Linked DNA regions of Homo sapiens. The protein of the gene in region 2 interacts with the protein of the main gene of each other region in a pairwise test. Each region holds a gene or a part of one and is shown on either strand. Other genes may lie near its edges. The genes, in order: CLNK, PPP1R7, MYH3 and FER.

Region 1 (6,479 bases), on a different chromosome or scaffold from region 2:
TTTTTCAGCACCTAATAGAGCTGCTGATGCATGGTATATATTCAATAGATAATAAATTAATGAATGATATTCCAAGAAAAAAAGCTTTAAATATCACCTACACTATTATCAGCTTTCTCATTAAACCAAATTGTCTTCAATTCTTCATGAGTAAAAAGCAGAAATATTCATATCATTAGACTTGGGTTCTTATTGCAGTCTAGCCACCAATTGGATGTGAACATGCATTTTTAGATTATTTGCCAATGAAGACCACAATAATTCACTTTTCTTCATTCACCCCTTGAATAGTCTTCTCCCACATTTACTCTGAACTTGGCCATGTGACTTGCTTTGGCCAATGGGACCATGGCATCTAGGATGCAAGCAGAGGCCTGGAAAAGGCTGGAGGCTGGAGTTTCCCCTCTCCCACTGCCCTTAGTGCCCCAAACCCACCGTGTACATGGGCCTAGCTGGCCACTAGATAACAGGAAGCTATGCAGAGGAGAACAGAGGCACCTGGCTGACATGATTGCCAACAAACAGATTCATGAGTGTGATAATCTTAGATCATCCAACTGCCTCTCAACCCACTAGCACAGACCAGATGATCAGGTCTTGTTATGGGTCGAATACGTCCCAGCTAAAATTCATTTGTTAAAGTCCTAACCCCCCACTACCTTGGAATGCCTTCTGACATGGAGACTGGGTCTTTAAAGAGGTAATCAAGTTAAAATTGGGTAATTAGGGTGAGCCATCATTCACTGTGACTCCTCTCCTGATAAGAAGGGGAAATTTGGACAAAGACACAGGGAGAATGCCATGTAAACACAAAAACAAGGATACAAAGACACCCACAAGCCGGGGATAAAGGCCTGGAACAGATCTTCTCCTCATGGCTCTCAGGAGGATCCAACCTTGCCGACTCCTTGATCTCAGACTTCCAGAGGCCAGACTGTGAGACAATACAATTTGACCTTCTGTTTTGTTAGCCACTCAGGGCTCAGTCCTTTGTTATGAAAACCCCAGAAAATTAATATGGGTCCAGACCAAAAGAAGTGAGCAAGTGACACACACAATTATGAACTAAATAAAGTGGTTACTGCTTTAAGCCCCTAATGCAGCAAAAGCTAATTAATAAAGTGGTTAAACTACTCGAGTCTCCCTAGTCTTCAGTTTTCACAATTACAAAATGGGATTTTACATATGTTCCTTACATGGTTATTAGTAAGATTAAGGAGGATAATGCTTGCAAGTTGCTTAGCAATGTAACTGACTCACAATTAGCATTCAAAGAGTGCTTATTTTCATGTTTTCCTTGGGGTGTCTGTTAAGTCAAAACCAGAGTTATTTACCCAAGAAAATATAAACTTCTACCTTTGAATTTATTGTAAATAATGTTGGAGTTTGTTATGGAATTCAACATCAATTTATATAAAACTAGAATGTCAAGTCTCCAGAAGAGGAAACAGGCACTCGGCAAGATCAGCTTAAATGGACCAAGATTAAGGCCGAAAGAAAATGTATTAAGCAACTGATATGTGCCCAAACATTACTGCATGCCTTTATTTACAATATTTTGTTTATTTATTGAAATACTTCTAAAATATAAATATTATCCTTCCATCACAATTGAGGAAATATCATTTCCTCAATGAAGGAAATATAATCCTCAATTATCCCTCATTTTTTAAAAAAGTTTCTAAAATACAAATATTATTATCACTCAAACTACTTGAGAAATAAACTTCAAAGTGCCCAAGATCCTATAGCTAATAATTAATACAGCAAGAATAAGAGGCAGGCATTTCTCCTTTAGTTCCCAGGTTCTTTCCTTAACACCTGGTCCATGTGTCTGGGATGGTCTCAGGAAGCCATTGCAAAATTAAGCCAAAAGATGATAGTTAATGTCCACTATTCATATAAAGTGAGACTCGCAAAACCCACCTTCCATGCTTGAGTGTTGCCCAGCAGTTCCTTTTATTGTGTTCTGGTAACTATGAAGTGCCACATAAGGACACCGTGTGTCTTTAAAAACACCCTTTGCATTGGAAGATTTCAGCCTCTGAAAGCTTCACGTATTGCACTCCAGCCTAAGAAGAGGAAGTCCTGCCAGCCCTCAGGTCAGACCTCTCAGGTCTGTGGCTGCATTTCACAGGAAACCAAGTCTAAAACGGACCTATCAGGAGGTTTTCTGCTGAAGGGCACTGCTTAGCATCGAGAAGAATTCAACCCACCGCCTTACTAATTTCCAGTGCCCCAAGGTCTCTGCACTGCCGCCCCTCCTCACAGGAGACGGACACCTCAGCCTAGATCCCTTGGTGCTCTCCACGCTGTTCAGGTAAACTCATTAGGCCAGTTCTTCTGAGTGAGGATCTCATGGTCATCTCCTTGTCATAAATGATCATCAGGAAAGACCTGAGCAGCAAGTAAAAATGTGTTTCTAAAGTGGAAGTCTGGGCCTTATATATAGCATCAAAGGAGCAAGAAGAAAGCCCTTAACTCAATTGTTAAAGATCCTTTCATTCTTTTGGGAGAAAGAATCAGGATACCTACCCACAGAAAATTAAAAGACTAAATGTTTTCAATCTTCTTTTCCTGGAGCTTGGACTCCCCGACTGTTTGCAACTGAAATCTAAAGACCAGGCCCCATGGCTGGCTTTCCTGGCTGACCTTCATTAAGTAAGCCCTCTAGAAAGAAAGCCTCCATTCAAAGTAGGTCATTCAAAGTATAAGTTAACTCCTGGAGCCCTGTGGAAATATATTTTTAACATTTTCTAAAGTAATACGATTTTCTTTCTGCTTTGGTGTAGAGGAGACTTAGACTTTGGAATCACGCAGACATCCTTCCACTCACAAGAGTAAGGAGCTCAAAAGTGAGGTTAAAGTTGGGGTTAAATTCTTACTCTTGAAAAGTGCCGGGAGTCATCTCTACCAGGCTTTTATTGGATAAAGCAAACAAACTGGAATGAGACAGAAAAGAAAATAACTATCATCAAAATATGGATACTTTGATTTTAAAAGGTGTCGATATGCCTGAACTTTTTATCAATACTGTTTTTATTACTTTACACCAGTGTTACTCATTTGGCTTCTCTGTTATGAGTATTACTTGTCTATTACCTACATGGCTATTTCTCTGGCTGTCTCTGTCTATACTGTGGCGCAGCTCCTCAATAGTGTTGTTCTTTGGATTTCCAGGGGCCTCCCAAACCACCAGGAATAATCATTTCAAATATCAAGAAGACGATGGTAGAGCTGGTTAATTGAAGGCCTACCAGAGAAATGACAGCGCTTCAGAAATCCTCTAAGAAGCTTAAGATACAGTATGCCCTAGAGAAGTAGGAATGGCAACTGGCATTTACTTACCTTCAGCTCCTGCTGACCTAGAGAGCTGGCTATTACTTTCCCTGGTTTACAGGTGAAGAACTTGAGTTCTCTAAGTAATATGTGCAAGGTTGTTCAGTCACTAATGTCAGTAACAGAATTCAGAAGGAAACTGATTTTCCTGGCTGACTGATTGGAATGGTGAACAGTGTTAGTTTGCAGTTTCACAGAGCTCATCCCTAAACTCACTCCTGGGTGGTCTCTGACACCAACCATCTAAATGGTAGTATTTCTTTGTTATTCCCAACAAGCCCTCTCAGATGACTGTATAGGCAAGACCATTTGAAAGCCAGTGCTTATAATCTTCTGTACCATCTGGCCAGCTCTGGCCTGAACACCAGGGGATTCTGTTTCTCGATCACTTTGCCATGAGTCAGGTGCTGTCTTAGAAAGACTGTAGGATTTGACGCCTGATCAAAATGGTGAGGATCCTGACTCTGCCACTTGGACCAGGGATGTTGTTTCATATATGATCCTCATTTCCTCCCCCTTTTTAATAAAGTAAGATCTCATAAGACTTGTATTGACAATTATTTAGCCTCAATAATATAATATTTATATTACGTGAAATATGGTGCATTCTTAACACTTAGCAAGTATTCAGTAAGTGTTGACTTCTTTCTCCATTACTTTCCTTTCCTCACTCCAAATCAGTTCTGATTTTATTCTTAAAACATGACCACAATCAACATAGAATTGATTAATACACATAAGTTTACAAATATTGTATTTTAATAATCTCATTAGAGAATGGTAATATTCCACAGTTGTATAGCCCTATGTAATGTAGGCCTTTGAATACATATTTTCTTCTTGAATGATCTTAACAGCTTAATGAAGTAGGCAGAGCACGTATTAGAGCATTTAAAAGGTGAAACTGGGGCTTAGAAAAGATGAGGAAGGACAACATGGTGAAATGGAAAGAAACAGGGCTTTGAGATTGTCAAAAATGGACATGAATCTAGTGTGTGACTTTACTGTTCGTCTTTAGGTAAGTAGCTTAACCTCTCTGATCTTTAGTTAGCTGTTGTTGGAGTTGTGTAATTTGAAACTGGGAGGAAGAATACATTTTGTGTGTTGCTTCGAGAGTGAGAGCAAATGTGCACACAGTGTCTGACACAGAAGAGATAGCCAGGAACTGGCTAAATTTTCACATGAAGAGTAGCAGACAGAGATCTAGAAGCATCCTTTTCTGAATCCTAGTACATGGAGCAGTTATATCCACTGTCATAAGCTACTGCCAACATCTGCCAAGACTTGAGTTCTGCAGAGTTCTTCTAGGCTGTACCTACCCTCCTAGCATGACAAAGAAACATAAAGTGTTCAAAGCGGCTAAATTACTAACCAGAGAGATAAATACCTGAATTTAAATTCTATTTATGATTTTTAACAGATTAAACCAAACATTCACGATTTTACCAATAAAACTGAGAAGCATCAGGTTAGATATCAGCAATAACGAAAAAATCACACACACACACACACACATACACACACACAAACAGAATTGTGGAATAGAGCTATCATAGGACCAATTTTTGTGTTTATTATTTATTTTTTGTTACTCTTATGGGCAGAATATTTGGGAATCATTATTGTGATTATTCTGCTTAATTTTAATCATGTCTTCCAAAGAGCAATGACTTACAGGTTACCATTTAAGTGTTGCTGATAGACAAGAAACGCTCATCATTTCTCACTTTTTAAGTAGGTGTACTTAATTCTTACTTTACAAAACGGATTCTGAAGTTCAGGCAGGCTCCATGCATTGTCCATTTCATGCAATGAATAGGAGGATATGCCAGAAATGAGACCCAGGTCCACCCGAGCCCCGAGCTCCTGCTCTCGGCATGGTGCTCCATGAGTACCCTGCTGATGTTCCCAGGTTCATGATCAGGGCATCAATCACTGTCTTCCAAACTAGTCAACAGCATTTAAGGAACTCCCAGATACACCACAAGCATTAGCAAAATATGTATTTTAGTTGTTTCTTTTAAATTTCATTGGTGATACTAATTGAAACACTGCTTCCTAAACACTTATGCATGAGAATCAAAATCCTATTGTGTTTAAATGGTACTGTGGTTTGTCATTTGAACTAAGATGAGCCAAAAGGTCTAGATACAACATGAAAATTTAATATCCATGTGATTGGATGATAATCTTTAACAGTGGTAGGTTCTGTGTTCAATTTCGTGTAAGATAAAGATAAGGGCTGACTAATAGCCTAGGCCCAAACTCTGAGAGGGCTGAATTTTTGTGGACTGCCTAAGGACCACATTTCACCATCAGTTTTGAAGACCCAGAAAGCTAATTGTATCCAAGGCACACAGAGTTGATGGAGCTCAAGAGGTCAGTTCACTCTGGTACTTTGACCTATGTATCCATCTTTGGTGATTTTGTTCAAGTGTACTCAAATTATAAGTTCAGATGATTGGCATATTCCCTCCCAGGAGACAAATGTACACAGGAAACTAAATTGATATTGGGCAGTAGCTTGTTGAGCACTAAGTCAGAGCTGTGTAATTTCAAAAGCTGGATTTGCTGAGCTATGGGTGGTCTGATGCCTTGGCAGGCACCTGGAAAGCCAGTCTGCCCCATGGTTACCTGTAGAAATTTATATATATATATATATCAGGACGTCCTCACTCATGGGCAAGTCTAGGGATCTCCCGATCAGCTTTATCTGTCTGGACTCTTTACACAGGACACCTCCACACAGTCCCCATCCCAAACTCCTACTTCTGATACATGCTGTTTTCACTATACCACGCCATCCAGTCGTTGAGACATGGATAGTGTGGGTTTGAAATCAGTTACTTCCTAGCAATATGGTTTTAGACAAGTTATTTAACTCCTCAGAACCTCTGTTTATCCTTTATAAAATGGAATAAAAATATCTACTGCTCGAATTTGTGGTGAGAAATGAGATTCAGTACATAAAAATGCATATCATGGTGACTAGTAATTATTAAATACAAAGTAAATGGTAGTGGCTATTATCATCATTCTTAGCATTATTATTATGAGTTTATTTTATATTTAAACAAACCTTCCTTAGATTCTTGGCCTTTGTCCCTTTTTTGTCTTCTTTTTTAATTATTATTATACTT
Region 2 (5,943 bases):
AGGTTAAGCAGGGCAAGACAAGTCACAGAGACGAGTTAGGAGGCAGGGCAGGAGCCCAGGCTGCAGCTAATAAGTAAGTGAGCCACCGTCATTGCGGGGGTAGGGAAGAAGAGATGGATTTGGAGGTTTTGGAGGTGGGTTTTATAAGGACTTGTTTTCTACAGCAATCCTTTCTTGGGTTTTACTTTGCTAGGCTAAGCGGGAAGTACAAAGATGAAGTTGAACTTTTTCCCTCAAAGAGCACATCTCTTTGTAGATAAACCATAGTCAGGAAAGAGTATTTTCAGTATGGTTGATAATTCCAAGTAATGTGTTAGTGCCTCATGTTTTCCAGACAGACTTCCAAAAGAGGTCATGAGTAAAGTTATAAAAAAGAAAAATGATTTGACAACCTTACCAAAGAATTTTTACCTGACACATTGAATTGCCTTATTCTTTAATTCAAAAAATATTTATGAACCTTTAAAAGCCTTAAGTTGCTAACACTCTGTCCAGTGTCCAGTGTGAAAGCTCATTTCACACCAATGAGCTTTCTGTGGGCGGTCAGCACTATTGGCTGTATTCTCCTTTTCCTTAGTGATCCTCCCTGCCCACAGTCTGATTTGAGTTAGTCTTGATTTCTTTCAGAACGTGGGCCTGTGAACTTGGCTGGTTTTCTTAGCCAGATAAATAGTGGAGCATGGATGGAGGTATGTGGCAGAAGGGTCACAGTGGTGATCCCCCAGCCCAAAAGTGAAAGGCACTCAGGAGGTGCTTCACTACCGGGTTCCATTAGTGGATTTAATCACAGGTGATCCAAGGCTTTCAGAACACTGGGCAATTCTTCACAAGCTCCTTGAGGGCAGAAGTAGTGTGTTCCTCACCTAAGTATCCATGTGGGCTCCACACTCTGCTCCCCATTCTCCCCGCGGCCATATGCCTCAAATGGTGCTGGGACATGGGAGACACTCAGATGTTCGTTGAACTGGATTCAACAAACATGTTTAAATGAAATCCTTTTGACTTACAACCGGGTGTTTATTATATGTTCCTCAAAGTCCCATAAAGTGGATGTGAATTCTCATTGACATGTGTGGGTTCAGTTGACAGGCGGGTCGAGTCTGAAGAATCCGGCGATGAAGAAGGGAAGAAACACAGCAGTGGCATCGTGGCCGACCTCAGTGAACAGAGCCTGAAGGATGGGGAGGAGCGGGGGGAGGAGGACCCAGAAGGTACCAGGCCCAGCTCCCTTGGGGACATCTGCTGGTTGGGGGATGTGGGCTGTGCTGCACGTGGTCTGGCCCTGGGTGTGGGTGCTGTGTCGGTCTGGAGAAGGACTGCCGTGCTCCTTAGGGGTCCTCAGTGGCCCAGGGCAGGTGGATATGCTCTTTGAGGTGCTCCTTCAGCAGGCTGACTCATTGATGGCGTTTGCAAAAAGGATGTGGTTTTTTCCAATTCCACTGAAGGCAAATCCTAGCACAAATATGGGTACTAGTATGCCGTCTGAGACAGAACCATGACATTGTTGGCCAGATGCAGTGGCTCATGCCTGTAATCCCAGCACTTTGGAAGGCCAAGGCGGGTGGATCACGAGGTCAGGAGATCAAGCCCATCCTGGCCAACATGGTGAAACCCTGTCTCTACAAAAAATACAAAAATTAGCTGGGCGTGGCAGCGTGTGCCTGTAATCCCAGTTACTCAGGAGGCTGAGGCAGGAGAACCGCTTGAACCCAGGAGGTGGAGGTTGCAGTGAGCCGAGAACACACCACTGCACTCCAGCCTAGGTGACAGAGGGATACTCCTTCTCAAAAAAAAAAAAAAAAAAAAAAAAAGGAAAAAGAAAAGAACCGCAATATTGTTATATTAACCATATGTTTAGGAAATGAGATTCGAAATAAATGTTATGGCTGACTGCTGTGTTTCTATGTCCTACCATAGCAATAGAAACCTTTAATCTCTGAGAGAAATTATTTCTGAGTCTTGCCTTACCATTTTTATAGGCCTGAGGATTGACTTCTAAAGTGCCTAGATGTGGCCGGGCGTAATGGCTTACGCCTGTAATCCTAGCACTTTGGAAGGCCAAGGCGGGTGGATCACTTGAGGTCAGGAGTTCGAGACCAGCCTGGCCAACATGGTGAAACCCTGTCTCTACTAAAAATACAAAAAAAAGAAAAAAAGAAAAATTAGCCAGGCATGGTGGTGTGCACCTGTAGTCCCAGCTACTCAGGAGGCTGAGGCAGGAGAATCGCTTGAACCAGGGAGGCAGAGGTTGCAGTAAGCTGAGATCACACCACTGCACTCCAGCCGGGGTCAGAATGAGACTCCATCTCAAAACAAAAAAGTTTCTGAACAGTATGCATGCATGTATGTACTTTTACCTGCTAAAGAAAGAAAACACATCAAACGGGCTGAGTCTGTCCAAACAGCAGGTTTAAGAAGGATCTATACATTTTGTGTTTTCTAGATTTGTATACAGTGTATGAATAATCATGCATCCCTTATGAAAATAAATTTATGAAGAAACAAACCTAATTTTTAAAATAACATTGTGCTCTCTGTGCCAGCAAAGATGATTGGTAACTATGGCAACCTACTTTTAAGTCACAAGGAGATTACCACAAAAGTACCAGTCACATTCACTTTGGAACTTTGAGGCTGATGTTCTGGAAGTGATGTGGGTGGAATAAAGTGCATGGGAGTGATAGATGGAAGCTTCCGTCATCGCCTGACTTAGTCACCAACAGTGGAGCGGTAGGAGCCCCCGCTATCCTCAGATGGGTGCTGCTGAGACATTGGGTGTTTATGGAGGACTTGAGAGTTGGCAGAGCAAGCCTTGTGTGCTTTCTTTCCCTGGCTCACTAGCACAGGCTAATCATGTTGTCATCATGTTCTGTAAGTACACCAGTGTGGTAATGTGTTATAGATGAGGAAAATGAGACTCTCTGCAGCTTGTCCAAGGGCACACGGCTACAAGGCAGACCAGCTGGCCTGGCCTGGAAAAATCCAAGTTTTTTCTTCGAGATGATTAGCTGATTATGAATTTTCTGGGAATATGCATTTCTAGCCCTTAGAGGAGCCAAGACTTGCTCCTACCTGTATTTATTTAAGTCTTAAATTCAATTAAAACAAATTTAATCATGTCAACTGTTACCTTCTACCTATTTTCCTTAAATTATTTTTAAAATATGATGAATATATAATACACTCAGAAGGGCATTCTAGGCTGGAAACCTTGTTTCAGAGGTTAGCTGACATTTTGAGTGGTGAGCGGCCAGCCCTGCTGGCTGTATTACAAACAAGACCCCTTAAAGCCATGCGACCGTGTGTCCTGAGGAGCCTGGCACAGCCCGTTTCTGCCTGCTGGCCCAGCATAACTGTGCCCTTCTGCTCTCAAAGGGTCCTGGTTTGGACTACATGACCTGGGCGCCCTGCCTTAATTGTAGCACCTCTTCCAGTGCAACTTCCTGAGTTTATGAACGGTGACTTGACACTGTCTTTTGAGGTGATTTGTTATCTATCTCTTGGTTTTGCCCAGTTCCTTTTATTTAATTCTTAGGTTGGTATCCTTTACAGTTGTGGATAAACTATAGTAAACTTTTTTTTTTAACTAACCACAGTTGATGGTTATAGAAAAGGCATAGTGGAAAACAATGAAGTGAATGCAACCATGTGGGATCATGACTTTGTTAAGCTGGTCTGATGTCAGGTGCTCCTCTCAGAGGCCTCCAGGTGAGAGGAGGAGCCAGGCTGGAGGAGCCAGCCCTTGGCATGGGGTCCAGGGCTGTGTGAGCTCACTCCCCTGCAGAAGCAAGTGCACGTTTGCTCTAGGAAGAGCCACAGTAACAGCACTGACAGCCCTGTAAGGTAGTGACAATGACAATCTGTTTACAGGAGAAAGAACATCCTATGCATATAATTCACAGACTCCAGACTGGGAGAAGCACTACAAGACAAACAGCTTGTTTTCCTACAACAGAAAACTGCAAGGGGAAAAAAGAAATTTAAGAAAAATGCTGGGCTGGGTGCAGTGGCTCGTGCCTATAATCCTGGCACTTTGGGAGGCCAAGGTGGGAGGATCACTTGAGGCTAGGAGTTCCAGACCAGCCTGGGCAACATAGCGAGACCCTGATTGTACAAAACATGGTTTTAAAAAATTAGCCAGGCATGGTAGCACACACCCGTAGTCTCAGCTTCCTGGGAGCCTAAGACAAGGATTGCTTGAGCCCACAAGTTCAAGGCTGCAGTGAGCTATGATCACACCACTATACTCCAGCCTGAACAGCAGAGTGAGACCCTGTCTCTTAAAAAAAAATTAATTTAAAAAAGTTTTTTAAAAGAGAAATACCATCTAGTCACAATATACAGCCTTATTTGGATCATAATGCAAGTAAACTAAGGAAAGAAATGTTAAGACAGTTGAGGAAATACGAACACTGACAATCTTTGGTGATATTGAGGAATTACTGTTAATTTTTTTAAGTGTTTTGAGGGGTGAGTGTGCGTGTTTGTGTGTCTGCATGAGTCTGTGTATACCACTGTTGTGCATGCGTGTGTCTGTGTAGTGTGCATACGTGCCTGTGTGTCTTTGTGCATGCGTGTGTGTGTGCATCTGTGTGTGTCTTAGTCCTTTTCAGCACACATGCTGAAGTAGGTTCCAATGAAATGAAATGAGGAAGTGCTTAACAGGGAAGCTGTCGCCTCAGCAGGGAGAGCAGCTCTCTCCCTCCTCCGCACAGAGGATGCCGGCTCCGGGGTAGAGAGTCCTCGTGAAATCCAATGGGCTTCTCTGCTGGAGTGAGTTCACCAGTCTCCCCACTGAGAAGTGTGTTTAAATTATTCAGTGAGCTTCTTTGATCCTATCTGTTGAACTATGTTTTGTTTTGTTTTGCTCTTTGCAGAGGGAAGTGTTTGTAGATGCTGGGCCACCTTCCAAAGCAATAAAAGGCCCATCCTAGAGCATCTGATGTGCCCAGCATGGTCTAGATTCTAATGGCCTGGTTTATTGCCACAAACAAAAAGAGAAAAGCTACATGGGAGGCAGGCTGCTGCCAGTTCTGCAGCTCTGGGAGTCACGGAAAGGCAGTAGTGCTACCCTGCTCACCTGCACTCAGCTACTTCCTCCCCTCCTTCCCACTAACAGGTTCAAAACACATTTCCTTTCTCAGGAAGTTCAAAGGCACAGATGGATGTTTGGTGACCTTTGCCAATATCTGAATTCAGGAAATTCAGAATGCTTAAAACATCACTATTGTTGGAGCAGGGTCTAACCCTGCCACATTCTCCAGGTCCTCAGCAAACCTTCCCATTGGTTCCTCCTCGGGGTTTGAGCTGGCTCTGGGCACCAAACAGCCCCAGACCTCAGCCAGAAGCAGCTCTTCACCAGTGCCTCCTGTTAATGGGGTTCTGAACAAATCTCTTTTTCTTATTTTTTCAGAAGAACATGAGCTGCCTGTGGACATGGAAACCATCAACCTGGACAGAGATGCAGAGGTAATGCCGCCTGCTCAGCCCAGCCTTGGGCGTGGTGATGGACCACCCTGTCAGGTTATCTTGTATGAGATTAGTAAGTTATTTCCCTAGAGAGGTGGCCTAAGCCTCCCTTGGTTGAGTCAGAGTCCCGTGTTCATGTTTTTCTTACCAGTGATTGTTATCCCCATGTCTATTCGACCCTTGAGGATTGTGTGGCAGATGAGATGCCTTTGACTCATACATTGTCTGGGTCTGATGATTACATTATACATGAGGGTCCCAATGGCCCCAGGCTGTGTATGACTGGCCACTGGGCCTCCTGAGCCCACAGCGTGTCTCTGATGGTGATGGGATGGGGTGCATATCCTCAGAACCTGAGCTTATGTTTTGTGCATACAGGATCTAAGGAATGAGAAAAAGATGTCATGTACCAATCATTTTAAGGGCCAGTTTTACATAAAACTTAGTCATCACTAAGCCAAAGAGCCCCCGCAG
Region 3 (5,943 bases), on a different chromosome or scaffold from region 2:
TACTAAAAATACAAAAAAGTTAGCCAGGCGCGGTGGTGTGTGCCTGTAATCCCAGCTACTCGGGAGGCTGAGGCAGGAGAATCACTTGAACCCAGGCAGCAGAGGTTGCAGTGAGCTGAGATCATGCCACTGCACTCTAGCCTGGATGACAGAGCAAAACTCTGTCTGACTCTCGTGCCTCAGCCTCCTGAGTAGCTGGGATTATAGGCATGCTCCACCATGCCCAGCTAATTTTTTTTAGTAGAGATGGGGTTTCACCATGTTGGCCATGCTGGTCTCGAACTCCTGACCTCAGGTGATCTGGCCCCCTCAGCCTCCCAAAGTGCTGGGATTACAGGTGTGAGCCACTGTGCCTGGCTGGATTAATTGCTTTCAAAAGCAGTACCAAGTGACCTCAGCAGATCAGCCACCCGCTCTGGTTTGCTGTCACACTGATTTTGTACCTTCTGTGCCATCCGGCTCGGCCTGCTCCTCTCGCTGCTTCTGCTTGAACTTCATGTTCCCGTAGTGCATCACGGCTCCCGTCAGCTTGTAGAGCCCAGATTTCTCTTCTGGGGTGAAGCCCAGGATGTCAATGGCGCTCTGGCATGGAAAGGGCAGCACGTCAGTCAGTTGGCCCCAGTGATGGAGGAGGAACACCCACCCCTTCTGTTGGTTCCACTTACGTCTGTAGCCAGCAGCTCCTCTGCATCATCTATGCTGGCCACCAGGATCTCCCCCTGGCTAATGAACGGGTAGTCGTAAGGGTTGGTCGTAATAAGCAGCAGCTCTGAAATGACAAATAGTTCCAGGAGGTTATGCAGATGCAAAGAAAAAACCCACCCAGTGGACTTGAGCTCCTGCACCCTGGGCTGGAACTTTTACCGCTGGATCCTAAATTGAACTTAGAATTAAAAATCTTTTAGACAGTTCCACAATACTCAGGCTGTCATGGAAAATATAGTCCAGGGAAGACTTTTCAGTCTCCCACACAATGGAGATGAAGGACCCTAGAGAGAACCTTTAAATTCCCTTGCCTTGCACGCTAATGGTGCATATCAGTGTCGGCTGGGAGAAGTTAATAGGGAAAACTGGCTGAGTGCGGGTCAGGACGAGAGCCAACCCAGGTGGTTTGGTATAATCATAGCCTTTTCTAAAATCTGTTGAAAAGCAGCAGCCTGTTTCCAAGCTGGAGACCAGAAGGCTGAGCAAATACAGCCAAAGAGCAAAGAAGCAGTGTGCATGGAGACCTCTGTGAGGGGCAGACAAGGGGCAGTGTGCAGTGCCTCCGTGGGCTTGATTATTCTGTTTGCTTTGGCGTCGCATTTGGCCATAGGTTGTTTCTGTGCCAGAACACAAGGGGGCGCCAAAGGACAGTTAGGTGTTCAGTTGCTCAGAAGGTTTTTATAAACCAGAGCTGGTCAGGAGTGGTCTAATCTTGTTGCCCTCCATTTGATTAGGTTTTCAAATTGGCATGTCACTGCCCAGATAGCCACATCCCATTTCTAAAATAAGCTTTTCCTGGCAAAGTGCAGTGGCTCACACCTATAATCCCAGCACTGTGGGAGGCCGAGTCGGGCAAATTGCTTGAGCCCAGGAGTTCAAGACCAACCTGGGCAACATGGTGAAACCTCATCTCTACAAAAAACACAAAAGGTAGCCTGGTGTGGGGGCATGCACCTGTAGTCGCAGCCACTCGGGAGGCTGGGGCTGGAGGATTACTTGAACCCAGAAAGGTCAAGACTACAAGTGAGCTGTGCTTGTGCCACTGCACCCCAGCCTGGGCATCAGAGTGAGACCCTATCTCAAAATAAATAAATAAAATAAAATAAACTTTCCCTGTTGACTGTAGAGTCACTCTACGTAGATACAACTCTCCTTGGTCTAGTGATCAGAGTCAAACTACCTAAAAGACCAGCCCCACTGGTGACTTCCTCACCTATGAGCTCAGGCTTCTTGTTAGAAAGAATCTGGTAGAAGATGTGGTAGCTTCTTTCAGCCTTCAGCTGGAAAGTGACTCTTGATTTTTCCAGAAGATCTGGAACACAAACACAGGACTCTCTTTCAAACTGTTCCCAGTTAACTCTGAGACGCCATCGAATCCCCATGGATCTACTTACAAGTTTCAATATCTGCAGAGGCCAGCTTCCCAGTGGTTCCAAAATGGATTCGGATGAACTTGCCCTGTATGGGGCGGGATTCAGGGGGAGACCAGATTCTACCATGGCCCAATAGTTCCTATTCATCTTATGGGTAATTTGAGTAGGAGCCTAGTCCCCCTAAAATTTTTGTTTTGTTTTGTTTTGTTTTGTTATGTTTTTGAGACGGAGTCTCGCTCTGTCACCAGGCTGGAGTGCAGTGGCGTGATCTCGGCTCACTGCAACCTCTGCCTCCCGGGTTCAAGTGATTCTCCTGCCTCAGCCTCCTGAGTAGCTGGGACTACAATCACGTGCCACCACACCTGGCTAATTTCTGTATTTTTAATAGAGACGGGGTTTCACCATGTTGGCCAGGATGGTCTCGATCTCTTGACCTCGTGATCCGCCCGCCTCGGCCTCCCAAAGTGCTGGGATTACAGGCGTGAGCCACCGTGCCCAGCACCCCCTACAGTTTGAAATTAGATATGTCCTTCCTCTTCTCCCTTCTTCTTCTTCCAGTTTGGGGTTTTCCTTATTTCCTTTTATTTATCCCTTTTATTCTATGCTCATCCCCCACTTCAACGTATCTAGTCAACAAAGCAACTACAGTGATTGTTTCAAGGTGTAAATCAAACCATATCACTCCCTGGCTTATAGAATCCCTCAGTAGCTTCCTGTTACACTTCAAAAGGAATCCAAACTCCTTCTCATGGCCTGTGGCTCCCACATGACCAGGTCTCTCTCTCTTCCACCTCATCTCATGGAACTGGCCCCCCTGCCCTCCTCCCTACAACCACACAGACCCTCTGTAGGTGCCCTGACTGCACCAGGCCCTCCCCCATGTCAGGGACTGCCCTGGCCCTTCCTTCGTTCCCCCTCCTTCCTGTCATTTCAAGTTGGGCTCTTTCTCATACTGCGGCTCTCAGCTCCCGTGCCAGCCCCACAGAGAGGTCTTCCCTGCCCACCCTGCCTAAAGCAAGCCTGGCCCCCAGTTCCTCTCTTACACACGCTGTTCATTGAACTTGGTCTGAATTTATCTTTATCTGAAATGGTCTTGTTGGGTTGTTTTGTTTTTCATCATCTGTTGCCTCTGGTCTCTACACTCTTTGAGGACAGGGCTCTTGCCTATTTTGTGAGGCACAAAGCAAATTCCATCTTAACCAAACTCAGACTCACAAAACGGGAGGAGTTGTCATTCCTCACAGTCTTGGCGTTCCCAAAGGCCTCCAGCAGGGGATTGGCACTGATGATTTGATCTTCCAGAGTCCCCTAATGCAAGAAATTGAGGGAAGAAGAGGAAACATTTTTTTTTGAGATGGAGTTACACTCTTGTTGCCCAGGCTGCAGTGCAATGGCACGATCTTGGCTTACTGCAACCTCCACCTCCCGGGTTCATGTGATTCTCCTGCCTCAGCCTCCCGAGTACCTGGGACTACAGGCATGCACTACCATGCCCGGCTAATTTTGTATTTTTAGTAGAGATGGGGTTTCTCCATATTGGTCAGGTTGGTCTCGAACTCCTAACCTCAGGTGATCCACCCGCCTCGGCCTCCCAAAGTGCTGGGATTACAGGCGTGAGCCACCGAGCCCAGCCTGAGGAAACATGTTTTTAAGCCACAGAATGACAGTAAAAAATGCTCACCCACTCTGTGACTCTGGCTTGCCCTGATAAAGCCCCACCCTCCTTGACTTTCCAATCCTAGGACCAACCAAATCAGCAGCATGTCTTACTCAAAACACTTTTGCCATTTTGTTATATTTGGCACTACAGTTGGGGATCTCTTGACTGAGCATTCCTTTAACACTTCAATCCCTTGATTCTCCAGTCAGTTGTCCGTATTCATTTCATGCTGCTGTAATACATTTGTTTCAAAAGCCCAGGATATGCTGTGAGTCACTCACATTGGTATATGTGATTCTTCCACAAAAGAACAAGCTCTCTGAGCCGTCTGCAGATTGACCTCTGAAGTTTAGCCCTAGAGCCTTGTCTTCTAAGAAATCCCGGGATCTAGTCCTACAAGACCAACTTGACACTGCGTTGTCTAAGGTGACTGGCTGTCCTTCAAGATAGTAAATCCTAGCCTGTTCTCCATTCTCTGAAGAGGGGGGAATGTGAGGACATTTGGCCCCCTCATTCTGAGGTTAAGACCACAGTTAAAAGTGGAAGCAAAGCAAGCCTTCCTCTCCCATCTATACCTTCATTTTGGAGTCCTTCTTCTTGGCCAGGTCCCCAGTAGCTGCAATTGTTGCAAAGTACTGGATGACCCGTTTGGTGTTCACAGTCTTTCCTGCCCCGGATTCTCCGCTGTACAGAGTGATCAAAAGAGAGAGAAAGAAACAAGTCTGTTAGTATAAACAGGCTTTTCAGGATGTCATACTGAGGCCTGGGCATGGTCTGAGCCATCTCTGACACACACTCACCACACTAATGTGACAGACCACTTGAGAAGGCAGACGCCCAGGGCACAGGTGCCACAGGCACTTGCTCAGCTGACCCAAGGATGGGTAATTCCATTTTTCTGAGGCCTTATGCAGACCTTCCTCCCCATCCCCAAATCGATCTTTTTATTTTTTATTTATTTATTTTTCTCTTTTATTTTTTATTTTTTGAGACAGAATCTCACTCTGCTGCCCAGGCTGGAGTGCAGTGGCGCGATCTCGGCTCACTGCAAGCTCCGGCTCCTGGGTTCACGCCATTCTCCTGCCTCAGCCTCCTGAGTAGCTGTGACTACAGGTGCCCGCCACCACACCCAGCTAATTTTTTTGTATTTTTTTTAGTAGAGGCAGGGTTTCACCGTGTTAGCCAGGATGGTCTCGATCTCCTGGACCTCGTGATCCGCCCATCTCAGCCTACCAAAGTGCTGGGATTACAGGTGTCAGCCACCGCGCCCAGCCTGATCTTTTTATTATAGACTCTGCTCCAAACACTTTCTAATGAACAGAATAGAGCCAGTGGCACAGCTATGAAACCACTCTATGCCATGGATACTTACGTGATCAGAATGGACTGGTTTTCACGATCTGCCAGAGGAAAAAATAAAATAGAGTTGATGGCAATAGAAAAAGAGCTTCCCGATTCTACCCAACTCTCAAGTAGCCAGAGTTAAATTGCACAATTCCTCTTCCTTTACATTTTTTGTTTAGCCTTTAGGTGGGAATCTGAAGAGCCTCCATCTGCTTTTTATTTTATTTTATTTTTAATTGACAAACAATATTTGTATATATTTGTAGGGTACAACATGATGATTTGATATATGTTTATATGGCAGAATGATTAAATCAAGCTAATTAACAAATCCGTCACCTCACATACTTATTTTTTTGTGGAGAAAACATTTAAAATATACTATTTTAGGGATTTTGAAATATACAATGCATTATTACTTATCGGAGTCACCATTCTATGGGACAGATCACCAGCACCGATTTCTCCTTTCCAGCTGTATCCTTTGGTCAATATCGAAAGCCTCCTTCTTGAGACTGAGACTCAGAGAGGGCAAGTCTCCACTCAGAATCAGCCAGTGGCAGCCGGGTGCAGTGGCTCATGCCTGTAATCCCAGCACTTTGGGAGGCTGTGGCAGGCAGATCACGAGGTCAGGAGTTTGAGACCAGCCTGGCCAACAAAGTGACCCCTGTCTCTATTAAAAATATAAAAATAGCCGGACATGGTGGTGCATACCTGTAGTCGCAGCTACTCGGGAGGCTGAGGCAGGAGAATCGCTTGAACCCGGGAGGCAGAGGTTGTGGTGAGCCGAGATCACACCACTGCACTCCAGCCTGGGCAACATAGCAAGACTCCATCTCAAAAAAAAAAAAAAAAAACCAG
Region 4 (5,943 bases), on a different chromosome or scaffold from region 2:
AACCTTTTTAATTCAGAAGTTGCGTATATTAATGGTTGTCTCACTATCACTTTGACATAAACTGCTGTAAAGGTGTACTCCATTTTCCTTTTCTCCAGATATGTTAAGATAATAAATTTCTCAGATGAGGTTACCATATATAAAAGTGTAGTGGAACATCAATAAGAGAATAGATCAAAACTATTTTAGTGATTAAAGATTAGAAAATACTTTTCAATTCATATGTGGAATGAGAATAGGATAAAAAAAAAAAACTATTGCAAAATCTTTAGTGCAGTATTTGTAGTCCTGGTATATATACCTGTGTTGCCCTTAAGAAGACATTTGTGAGTAGCTCCAGGTTTGTCAGTCGGGAAAGCAGAGTGTATCTTTTTGTAGTCCAGGAAAGCTTTTCTGCTAGTACTTTTGAGCCAAGAGAATTATGCTTCCAAAGATGCTGGGAATATATTAAGAGAGTACATAGGCATACTTCTGTTTTCATCTTTGAAAGACCTTTAGTGAAGATCTGTTTCTCTTCTGCATTGATTGTTGACAGCATTAAATATACATAATCTAAAACTATGTAGTGTCAAGTTGTTGCAGCTTCTGCACTGCTTCAAAGGTTGATGTCTTTAGTTCAGAAGAAATAATTCAAGCTTTGGTAGACAAATCATTTACATTTCATCTTCGATGTAGATGTTACTGTAACTCTGGACCGTGAACATTTCAAATTTGCCAGTTTTTTCTCAACTATTTTACTATGAAAAATTTCAAACAATGCAGAAGAGTCGAGTTGAACCCACCACCTATATATTTAGCAATAACGATTTCAAGACCACTGTTACACAGTAAACATTAAGGAATAGAGGAACTGAAATGATCAAGCTTAAAAAACCAGCGTATGTGGCCGGGCGCGGTGGCTCATGCCTGTAATCCCAGCACTTTGGGAGGCCGAGGCGGGCGGATCACCTGAGGTCGGGAGTTCGAGACCAGCCTGACCAAAATGGAGAAACATGGTCTCTAATAAAAATACAAAATTAGCCGGGCATGGTGGTGCATGCCTGTAATCCCAGCTACTCGGGAGGCTGAGGCAGGAGAACCGCTTGAACCCGTGAGGCGGAGGTTGTGGTGAGTGGAGATCACACCATTGCACTCCAGCCTAGGTAACAAGACCGAAACTCCATCTCAGAAAAACAAAAAACAAACAAACAAAAAAACCACAAAAAGCCCAGCATATGTATATACATGTATATGTAGTATACATGTATATACACACCACCAAATTATAAGGTGCTTATTTTTGTTTGTGAGTGGGAATTGTACTTACTAAAACTATACTAACTTAATTACATGAGACTATTCAAAGCAATCTTGTGAGTGAGGTAGGAAGTCATCATCTTTGTAATCAAGGCCCAAATAAGTAAACTGCATTTTGGTAATCAGACAAAAGGAAATCTGATGAACTTGTTATACAAAAAAACGTTTTGCTTCAAAATTGGACTCCTGTGTAAATAGATTATAGTTTTGTACTTGATTTATAAATAAACATCTTTTGGAGGGAAGTCCAAGGGACTATCAATTATGTAAAATTTTGGTAACTTGATAAATTGGGTCAATCTTATGTCTGTTCATTTGGAATAAGAATGTATTTTTGTAATGGAAAAAGCTTACAAAGGTGAACTTTTTTTAGTAGAACTGCTTCATGGAGACTGACGTAATTAGAGAAATTTAAGTCAGTATTTCGATAGGACTCAACGATCTTGGGTGTTGTCTCATGGTTCTGAGGAATATTTTGATATAAAACTTCAATTTATAGTAAAGGAATAAGTGGAAATGGGTATAAATTCACACATTTGTATATTTGTAATTTTTCTATACCCGAGAAATTTGTGTACACCTTTTTAAGTATTTGAATCTTGCTTTTTAGTTTTTGCATACCCTAAATCTGTTTTTCATACTTACCTCGTTCATATAGTAATTTCTTAAATATTAAGGGCTATGTCTCAGAATTTATAGATCTCTGGATTGCTTTATTACTATTTTTCCAAATTTCATTTGTCTTTGGTATGCTTATGTATGGTTAACCTATCATGCTATTGAGAGACTGAAGGAAACAATTAGGTCACAGTTTTAGAACTTTAGTTGTAGATTCAGTGAACTCAGAAACAATTGGATTTTTTAAAATCAAGGCTCCAATTTTCCCTTCCCTCCCTTCCTCCTTCCCTTTTTTTACTCCTTTTCTTTCTTATTTTTGTTTGATTATAAATGTTAAATGCCTTACAATCAATTCAGAAAACTATAGAGAAGAAAATGAAGTCACTCATCATTCTACCATAATGATTTGAAAACTAACAAACTTTGATTTCTTCTGTAACACTCTACCAATTATTGAGATTTTATGGTTTTCATTTCAGTGTATCTGCATTCACATCAAAATTTGTAAGAGTTCCTGAACTTGAGGCTGTTACCTTAAATTAGAAGAGGGCTCCTAGATCTGGGGGAAAAATGGAAAAGAATAAATAGAGGACAGATTAGAGTCAGAACAGAGGAATTAGACCCAAGCAGTTACTGTTTCTTATTCTGTAAGTATAAATATTTTAGTTTACCATATAAAACTGCTGTATGGCTGACAAAATATGAGGCCATATTTTTTCTTTGGAATTCAAAGTATCTAGGTAAAACAAAGTTTTCTTGGTTCTTTTCAAGAAATAGTTCAGATTTCTTCATTTTTGGAGGATATTACATAATTCAGCTTTAAAAATTTAATGTCATGCATGTTTGGAATTATTTTAAAAATATTCATATCAGACAATTACTAATTTTTATTCATCATCACCATTCATTATAAACTTGATATTGTCACTTTTTTTAGTAGGTATTAAAAGACTGGACATTTTATGTAGGTTTTCCTTGCTAGGTTTCAAAGTGTAGTGAAAAGAGGAGCCATTTATTTTAGAGTCAGATAATCGGGTTTTAGTTCCAGTTTCTGTTCTGTGGGATCTTGGACAAGTTATTTTATCTCTTTAAGTCATAATTTTCTCATCTATTCAATAGGGATAGTAAAATTGCTTCACTAGCTTGTTACATAGAAGAAATGAGACAATGTAGGTAAGATTTAGGAAGTATTAAACTGACTTTAGGAAGTATTCAGCTTCTGTATTCAGTTCTTTATGTGATAACATTGATTTTATCTCTCCTTGTATTAATGTGTTTATTATACCATCCACAAAGTCCTTGTTTCAGACATAAGAAATTAAAATATAATTAAATTTACTTAAATTTAAATTTACAATAAATTTACTTAAGTTGAATGACATTTGCATTTATACAAATAAATAGTTAGAAATATCTCAGATTAGCTGTTCTTTTTATAAATCTTAGCTTATTGTATCTCAGCAGGGATAATTATAAATTTACTTTAAATGATTTTTAACTCCAAAATATCTCCAGTTTGTCTGGATTCCTGATTTATTTTTCTTTTTGCCTAGATGATCATGTGTTTTTGGATGGTTGCCCTAAATTCCTTTCATTTAAACCACAGGTATTAGCTACACGTTACTGTCTTAAATCTCTAACTAGTGCCCCCGCAAACACATTTTCTCAATCTGTTTAAAATTTAAACTTCATTTTTAAATTTAATAATACCCTTATTTGTATATTAGTTGTGTCTTTTCCACCTCCTACTGAAACGTATGATTATTTTTTAAGGAGCAGTATTTTACAGATATCCCTGTTTCAGATTGTGTGTTCTGTAAATACAGGGTTCTAATTCTTAAAGAACATACAGTTTAAATGGGCAGACCAGCCTATGGTTATTCTGTGTAGAGAAGCAAGCACTGAACTGACTTAGCAGTTGAACTAGAGTCCATATGGTCTCATCCAGCAGTAAAACAGATTTTTGTGATCCAAGTCAGTTTTCTTATATTTTTTCCCGTCCAGGTACAAGATATTTACATGTATGACATATTCCACTGTGCAGTTTTCTAGCATGCGAGCTCTAATTCAGTCTCTCTCCTATTCAAGAAAGCATATTAGAATGCAGATGATTGAGAGTGACATCATTATGGGTATAAACTTGAATCTACTCTGATTTATTGGAGAAAGTGAGTCATTAAAAAATGTGGGCTGGGTGCAGTGGCTCATGCCTGTAATCACAGTATTTTGGGAGGCTGAAACGAGAGGATCACTTGAGCCTAGAAGTTTGAGAGCAGCCTGGGTAACATAACGAGACGGCACTCTACAAAAAAGTTAAAAAATTAGCCCGATATGATGGCATGTGCTTGTACTACTACTAAGGTGGCTAAGGCAGGAGGATTCCTTGAGCCCAGGAGTTCAATACTGCATTGAGCTATGATTGCAGCACTGTGCTTCGGCCTGGGCAACAGAGTGAGTCCCTGTCTCAAAAAAAAAAAAAAAAAAAAAAAATAGTGTGTAAGTATTGTTAGTAACAAGTACTGAAGACATACCTTACAATTCTGTAAGGGACCCAAGTTATTTCCACATTTTCCTGAAGTGAATGCCCCTTTAGTTTTTCTTATCATTCTTATAATGCTACATAAGAAAATATTATTACACTAATTTTATGTCATTAATAGAGACCTATATTTAAAAGTTAGAATAACTTAATGAACATGTAAAAATATTTAGGTAACAGTACCTCAGTCTGTATTGTGACTGGAATAACACTAATTGTTGTACAAAAATTGAAATTAGTTTTCTAGTGTAAATCATTTTGCTTGCAAAAAGGCTATTTCTATATTGGGACTCATGGTTTTAAGAGAAGTGGAAACAGTACTAGAATTTTTATTTTCTAGGCACTTAGAATGTAAAAATGCTCTTTACATTGGCTCAGTCAGAAAAGTATCTTTGCATTACCATGAATAGAGCTTAATTTTAAATCACTCATCCTATGTGGAAGTACCACGTATAATATACAGTTCCAAGTGAAGACTTAGTAGACCTTTGATATTTGCAAGTGGTATTTCCTGAAACCTTTGTGAATCTAGGATATAACCACCTCCATAAAATGCAGTCAAATTTAATGGAAAAGTTTAAGTGATCCCTTCAGACCCGTACAATCCGGTAAGGAGGACTCGAGTCATTAAAGCTATTAATTTTTTTGCTTCTGAAATGAAGACTAGACAACTTTGCATTACATTATTTGTATACAGGCAAGGTTCTTATTCTTGCCCCTTGTATCCTATAGTTTGCAGAATAAAAGAGCATTTCTGGCTTAATCACAAAGCTTGCTGCGTTGTCACAAGGTTTAGTCCTTGGTCGCTGTAATGCTTTTCTGTATGCTTCTGTTTCTTGGATGTTTTCTCCTTGGAGTTGAACACTTCTGTAGTATGTGTCCTTTCTCTGGATGTCTTCAGCTTGGGAGACTTTCCCAAGCTTCCGTGGATTGATGGGGCTCCCTTGTTAATTTCACATTCTACAAAGAAAAGTGCATTTGACTCTTCTAGCAGTGTTCAGGGTTTTTTTGTTGTTGTTTTTTGAGACAGAATTCCACTCTTGTTGCCCAGGCTGAAGTGCAATGGCACAATCTCGGCTCACCGCAACCTCCACCTCCCGGGTTCAAGCAATTCTCCTGCCTCAGCCTCCCGAGTAGCTGGGATTACAGGCATGCACCACCACGCCCGGCTAATTTTTTTGTATTTAGTAGAGATGGGGTTTCACCATGTTAGTCAGGCTTGTCACAAACTCCTGACCTCAGGTGATCCACCCGCCTTGGCCTCCCAAAGTGCTGGGATTACAGGCATGAGCCACAGTGGCTGGCTGCAGTGTTCAGTTTTGATAACAAATGGGTCAGTAGCCACCCTAGCAGCTATACCACATCTTGTTTTATGAAAATATACAGTATCAGCCGGGCACTGTGGGTCACACCTGTAATCCCAGCACTTTGGGAGGCCGAGGTGGGTGGATCACCTGAGGTCAGGAGTTTGAGACCAGCCTGGCCAACAT

What was found.
Region 1: the proteins of PPP1R7 (region 2) and CLNK interact in a two-hybrid assay, tested with the Homo sapiens proteins (one large-scale study listed by BioGRID and IntAct).
Region 3: the proteins of PPP1R7 (region 2) and MYH3 interact in a two-hybrid assay, tested with the Homo sapiens proteins (one large-scale study listed by BioGRID and IntAct).
Region 4: the proteins of PPP1R7 (region 2) and FER interact in a two-hybrid assay, tested with the Homo sapiens proteins (one large-scale study listed by BioGRID and IntAct).

What each region holds. Positions count from the first base shown.
Region 1 is NC_000004.12:10,680,509-10,686,987, reverse strand, and holds the start of CLNK (cytokine-dependent hematopoietic cell linker), read left to right. Parts: upstream 1-2,219; 5' UTR 2,220-2,320; intron 2,321-6,479. UniProt on the Homo sapiens protein: An adapter protein which plays a role in the regulation of immunoreceptor signaling, including PLC-gamma-mediated B-cell antigen receptor (BCR) signaling and FC-epsilon R1-mediated mast cell degranulation.
Region 2 is NC_000002.12:241,152,394-241,158,336, forward strand, and holds part of PPP1R7 (protein phosphatase 1 regulatory subunit 7), read left to right. Parts: intron 1-1,082; coding exon 1,083-1,211; intron 1,212-2,624; exon of another isoform or gene 2,625-2,871; intron 2,872-5,413; coding exon 5,414-5,469; intron 5,470-5,943. UniProt on the Homo sapiens protein: Regulatory subunit of protein phosphatase 1.
Region 3 is NC_000017.11:10,645,264-10,651,206, forward strand, and holds part of MYH3 (myosin-3), read right to left. Parts: intron 5,139-5,943; coding exon 5,111-5,138; intron 4,423-5,110; coding exon 4,314-4,422; intron 3,387-4,313; coding exon 3,294-3,386; intron 2,164-3,293; coding exon 2,100-2,163; intron 2,018-2,099; coding exon 1,919-2,017; intron 770-1,918; coding exon 666-769; intron 583-665; coding exon 444-582; intron 1-443. UniProt on the Homo sapiens protein: Muscle contraction.
Region 4 is NC_000005.10:108,750,027-108,755,969, forward strand, and holds part of FER (tyrosine-protein kinase Fer), read left to right. Parts: intron 1-5,943. UniProt on the Homo sapiens protein: Tyrosine-protein kinase that acts downstream of cell surface receptors for growth factors and plays a role in the regulation of the actin cytoskeleton, microtubule assembly, lamellipodia formation, cell adhesion, cell migration and chemotaxis.